2 separate regions of the Homo sapiens genome follow, and region 1 is linked to region 2. Evidence: fine-mapped expression QTL. A gene starts in region 2. The other region holds a variant in brackets. All regions are shown on one strand. Distances are from middle to middle.

Evidence for each region. PIP is the estimated chance that this variant, and not a neighbour inherited with it, causes the effect.
Region 1: its variant is fine-mapped to the expression of RADIL in lung (TOPMed, PIP 0.91).

Annotation. Positions count from the first base shown.
Region 1 is chr7:4,833,026-4,835,525 of GRCh38, forward strand. It overlaps RADIL (Rap associating with DIL domain), which reads right to left. Exons shown (of 15, transcript NM_018059.5): 4 at 1,582-2,214. Among named protein-coding and RNA genes, the nearest start is that of SNORD165, 3.2 kb to the right of the region's middle. The variant G/A (reference allele first, on the strand shown) is at 948.
Region 2 is chr7:4,882,404-4,885,407 of GRCh38, forward strand. It overlaps RADIL (Rap associating with DIL domain), which reads right to left and starts at 1,313. Exons shown (of 15, transcript NM_018059.5): 1 at 1,193-1,313. RefSeq lists enhancers at 15-309, 39-727, 728-1,415 and a silencer at 1,125-1,344.

The DNA of each region.
Region 1 (2,500 bases), 50 kb before region 2:
TGGACCAGGCAATTCACCTCTGGGAGCCTCTGTTTCAGAGCCTGTAGCATAGGGGCAGGGTGAGCCCTGGTGTGCTGCAGGGAGTGGGCCAGCCACACAGCGAGCCCCAGGTGGCTGGGACACAGGCTGGGACCCGGGTCCCTCAGCAAGTGACTTACGGCCCCCTGGCTTCAGTTTCCCTGGCTGTGACATGGGGTGTGGCATCTACATCGTCAGGGTGGTTGTGATAAAGAAATTAAACAGCGTTTGGTTTGCAAGTAAGTGCCTGGCGCAGAGGAGACTCGGGAAATGACAATGATCGTGCGAAAACCCATGACTTCTGGCCAGCAGGTAACTCTCGGTCACAGTGGCCACGATGTGGACACACACTACAGGGACATCACCTGGCCCTGTGTCCATGACTGCACGGAGGGGACACGGGCACGCTGCAGTGGCACTCCCATCAAATCCCAAGCCGGGAACCCGAGGGGAAGAGGCACGGACACCCAGATTACAACACCCACGGTGCACAGAGACGGCTCCCACTGACATCTGGACAGGGAAGCCTGAGCTGGCTTTTACTTTTTAAAAGTCTCAGACATTTAAAATGTGGATTTCGATATGAGAAAGTGATAAGGTTTCTACACAGTCAAGTGGTTCCCCCTTCCCCTGTCTGCCGGGGATAAGCGGGGCCCAGACTAGCGAGGATCTGAGGGTCTCTGAACGAACTTGAACAACTACGAGTTGTCCTTCGGGTCCCTGGGAGCCAAGTCACTGTGGGGTGGGGCCCAGCGGGGGGCCATGACTGTGTGATGCCTGTTCCAGCACTCATGGGCCCAGGGCGGTCCTGCTCACTGGCGGCCACACTGGATTCCTGGGGACATTGGCAATGCCTGCAGCCATGGGTGTATTGCGTGTGTGTGTGTGGCGGGGCGGCAGAGGGTGACCGGCATCTAGGGGTGGAGGCC[G/A]GGGATGCTGCTGAATCCTCTGCAATGCACAGGCCAGCCTCACAGCAAGGAGCTCTCCTGCCACAGTGTCCACAGGGCCGGGGATGAGAGAGGCTGGCCTGGAGGAAAGTTCGTCAACGCACAAAAGGTGACGGGCCCTGCACCTCCAAACTCGGATCAGGGATGGCTCCAGCGGGTATGTGCTCAACCGGCCCCTGGCAGCAAGCACAGGGCGCCGGCACACACAGGGGCTTCTGGGGCTCTTGGGCAGGGGCCTGTGAGAGCTATCAATGTCACCTCGGCCTCGTGGTGCCCAGGCTCAGGGGCAGCTCACTCCTGGCACGTGACAGTGCTGGGCCCAGCTGGACCCCAGGGAGGGTACAAGCCCAGAGCTCAGGAGGTGACCTAGGACCCCACGCAAACCCCACCCTCAGGGGCAAAGGGCTGCAGCTGACACCTTGGGTTCTGGGGCTGCTTCTGGTGGCCTGTGGGGCTGGGGGGCAGCGACAGGCAGGGAAAGGCCGCCCTGCGCTCAGCAGCACAGCACCGTGGGGGTCAGATAGAGGCGCTCCCGCCTCCCAGCCGGGGCCAGCTCCGGGCCCCCTCTTCCCCCAGACCGGCACAGGACCCAGACCGCCCACCCCAGCACACTGACCCAGACAGTCTCGCGGATCAGCCTGGCTATCTTGAGCAGGAGCTGCCCGAATGTGCCCGGCTGGAAGTGGGTGGCCGAGTGCTGGATGCAGAGGCACAGGAGGAAGGCGGGGGTCAGCTTGTGGTCGTCGCCCCCCGGCTCGATCAACGTCATGATCCTCTGCAGCAGCGTGTCCTCCAGGTGGGGCTCAAACTCCAGGAGCAGCTGCTGGCGCCGGGGCAGGGCGGCCTGAGTAGGGGAGGCGGCTCCCCGGGCCCCGAGCGCGGCCCCGCACAGCCGGCAGCTCTGCGGCACAGCCCGGAGGCGCGCCAAGGCCCGGGCGGGCAGGGGCTGGGCCTGCGCGGGGTCCTTGAATAGCAGCAGGTAGTAGAGCCCCAGGGAGAGCAGGTCCCCGTGGTGCAGCACCACGGTCCTGTGCCCCACCTCGGAGAAGTTGACGGAGATGTGCGCCCCGGGGATGGGCTCCAGGACCAGCCTCCCCGCGGCCTGGCCGCTGTCCGGGAGCGGTTGCCGGCGGATGGTGCAGTGTAGAGGCAGGATGTCGGGGGCTGAGAGGCTGATGCTGGGCTTGCTGGAGGGGGTCCGCTGGCCCACCGTGTGCCGGTCCCGGTTGAGCACATACACCAGGCTGTCCTGAAACAGAGACTCCGCTCAGGGCAGGCGTAACGCGAGCAGCACACGGGAAAAGCGTCCCGTGTCTAGTCACTGGTTGCTGAAGCAGCGTGGCTGGGATGCTGTCGCCACGGGCTCTCCATGTCCCTGGCCACCCCCACACCAGAACCCCGACGGCTCTCAGGAACCCGCCCCTCGATGTCCGGGCCCATCCCAGAGGAGGTCGGTTTCCCGGAGGAGCACACGAGAGACCCAGGAGACACCCAGCTTTGAGACAGCGACAGGCCAGGTCAGGGCTGGCCGGGAA
Region 2 (3,004 bases):
GGCTCGGACAGCGAGGGTGTGGGGCGCTGGCTGGTGCTGCTCTTAGAGAATGTTTTCTCTTGTTCTCAAGGAAGGGTCCAGTTTCTGATGAAAAACAAGCTCAAGTCCCAGCGGCGAGTACAGGGAGTGAGGTCAGTGCTGCGCTGACGACATGGGTGGAGCGACCTCTCTGCTCCAACAGGACAATGTGGAACCCATTATCATTTCCAGCAGGAGGGAAAACGAAGCGCAGACTTTACACACTCAGCTCTCTCCCCTCCTTCCATGAATCCTATCTTTACAGCCCCAGCCCGAGCCACGCTTTCAAATGCAAACATAATTCAATCAGATTTAATTCTGACCTGCTAGCTGCTGGAGAGGAGACCGACTTGCCCCCCAGCAAAAGGGACTTTCAAGACTGGTTCCTGTCTGGAATGCACAAGAGGTGGCCTATATTAACCGCGGGACACGAGCAATCAGATTCTTCTGTGCAATTCAGATTAGCCAAACACTTGACAGGCGACAGGGCAGGGCAGGATGGTCCGCAGCCCCGCCAGGGCCCTGCCAACCCCACCAACAGGCTCCTCCTGCGAGGCCCCAGGAGCTCGGCTCAGCATCTGTTATCTTGGATGCAGTATTTGTCGAGGGGCTGGAAATGGTACATAAATAGCCGGGAAACAATGCTTTGAGCTGGCGCACGAGTGGGGATCGGGCTGCAACCGGGACGGGGTATGTGCAGGGGACGTCTCGCCGGCCCAGGTGGGAGAGCGCGCGGAACCCTGCGCCCCGCTCCCCCGCTGCGCCCCGCTCCCCCGCTGCGCGCCCCGGACGAAGCTCCCCCTCCAGGGCACAGCCGGGAAAACTGAGGGCCGAGAGTCCCCTGGAGTTGGGGGTCCGGGGCCCACGCGGACAGCCAGGCTCAGGAGCTCTCGGGGGTCGGCAGCGCGGACCCCCGGATCCCCGCAGGCTGGGCCGCCCTTGCCCGCGCTAGCCGGCCTCCGGGTACCGCCCCCCGGTCCAGGCCGGGGCCCGACAGCCAGTCGGTTCCCATGGCAACTGGGCAAACCTGCCCTCCGCGCCCCGACCAGCGGCCGGGAGTGTCCCCGAGCGCGCCCCGCGGCCTCCGCGCCCCAGGTCCCCGGCAGCGGCCGAGCAGCGCCCCTTACGAGCCACCCCCGGTTCCGCAGTCACTCCTCGCGCACCCCACACTCACCTCCGGCACAACCCGCCGCGCCGCCACGTTCCCGCGCTGCTCCCACCCGCCGTTGGCTGGGGCCGGCGCCCAGACCCGCGCGTGCCGCGGCGCCTCCTGCCGGCGGCGCAACGGGCGGGGCGGGGCCTCAAGGGGACGGGGCCACAAAGGGTGGGGCGGGGGAGAACAGGTGGGCTGGAGCTGGGCCTCGGCGCCCAATAGGCAGAAAGAAAGCCTCGAGGAGGCGGGGTCTCCAGGAGAGGGGCGGGGCCAACCTGCTAGAAAAGGCGGGCTGTGCTCTGGCGCCTCCTGCCGGCCGCCCAATGGACGGGGATGCAGCCTCGAGGGGGCGGGGCCTCACCGGAGAGGCGGGGTTTTGAAGAAAGGGGTGGGGCTGGTTGTGGAGAGGCGGGACTTGCAGCCCACCCACAGACTGCAGCTTAAGGAGGGGGGGTCCCCGGAGGAAGGGTGGGACCAGTTCTAAGTCCCTGAGCTGCTTGTGGGCTCTGGGCTCCTGCGGTTGGGTGGGCTATTTCGAGACAGCACCTTCTAGTAGCCCAGTGAGTGGGTGTAGGGGAGGGTAGAGCTGTGCCCCCAATTAATAAACATCTTCTAAGACATCGAAAAGGAACAAGGGAGGAATTTCCTCTCCCCTACCATCTGTCTCCCACCCAGAGTTTTAAAAGACAAATCAGGTCATGGCATTCCTGCTTACAATTATGCAAAAAAATGACCAGGTCAGCTCTGGGGCTCTGGCCCCAACTGCTCTCCCTGGGGACTTGTTTAAAAAGCAGCTCGTGACCTCGGCACTTTGGCTGGGGTTTTCCCTTTGAGGAATGTGGGCTAGACCTGGGAGATTCAGGTGGTTCGGAATATCAATATGCAGAATGTGGGCCTCGGGAGTGAACCTTTTTGTGGACAGCTATCGTGGTATGATTTCCGTAGTCATGACCCCATATTCGCGATGGAGGTCGGAGCAGACATTGATGAGTGTGGGAACAGACATTTATTGACCACCTGTGTGCCAGGCCCTAGGCAACTTTACCTAGGTCACCTCACTTAATGCTCACATCAATTCTTGTGAGACAGAGATGTCTGAGACATTCCAGGCCTCCCCTTTCCTCCACCTATCACCTGCTAATCCTAAAGTCCACCTCCTAAACCTTTTCTAATAAAAAATAGTGCCTCAAAGTCAACACAGAGAGACAGATTTGAGCCAGGCTCCTGTCTCCTTATTGATCAACTCACAATACGGACAAAAAAAGCTTTTGTCTCAAAAACTTAATGCAGTAAGATTGGCTTTTTTTTTTTTTTTTTTTTTTTTTTTTTTTGGAGACAGAGTCTTATTCTATTGCCCTAGCTGGAGTGCAGTGGTGTGATCTCAGCTCACTGCAACCACCACCTCCCAGGTTCAAGCGATTCTCCTGCCTCAGCCTCCCGAGTAGCTAAGGTTAACAGGCACCTACCACCACGCCCACCTAATTTTTGTATTTTTAGTAGAGACGGGGTTTTGCCATGTTGACCAGGCTGGTTTTGAAATCCTAACATCAGGTGATCCACCCACCTCAGTCTCCCAAAGTGCTGGAATTACAGGCATGAACCTCTGCACCTGATCAAGATTGGCTTCTAGCAGAGCAAGCGCAGAACCCTTTTGTTCAGTAATACTCCCATTTTTCAGATGAGAAAATAGAGACGCAGAGAGGTCAGGCTGCTGGAGGTAGAGACAAGAACTGAGCCAGGAATACAGGACCCTCTGTATACACACCAACCTCCTCGCCTACCCCAGGAAGGGATGCTTGAAAGGAATGACGTGCTTGAATATTTCATTCAGGT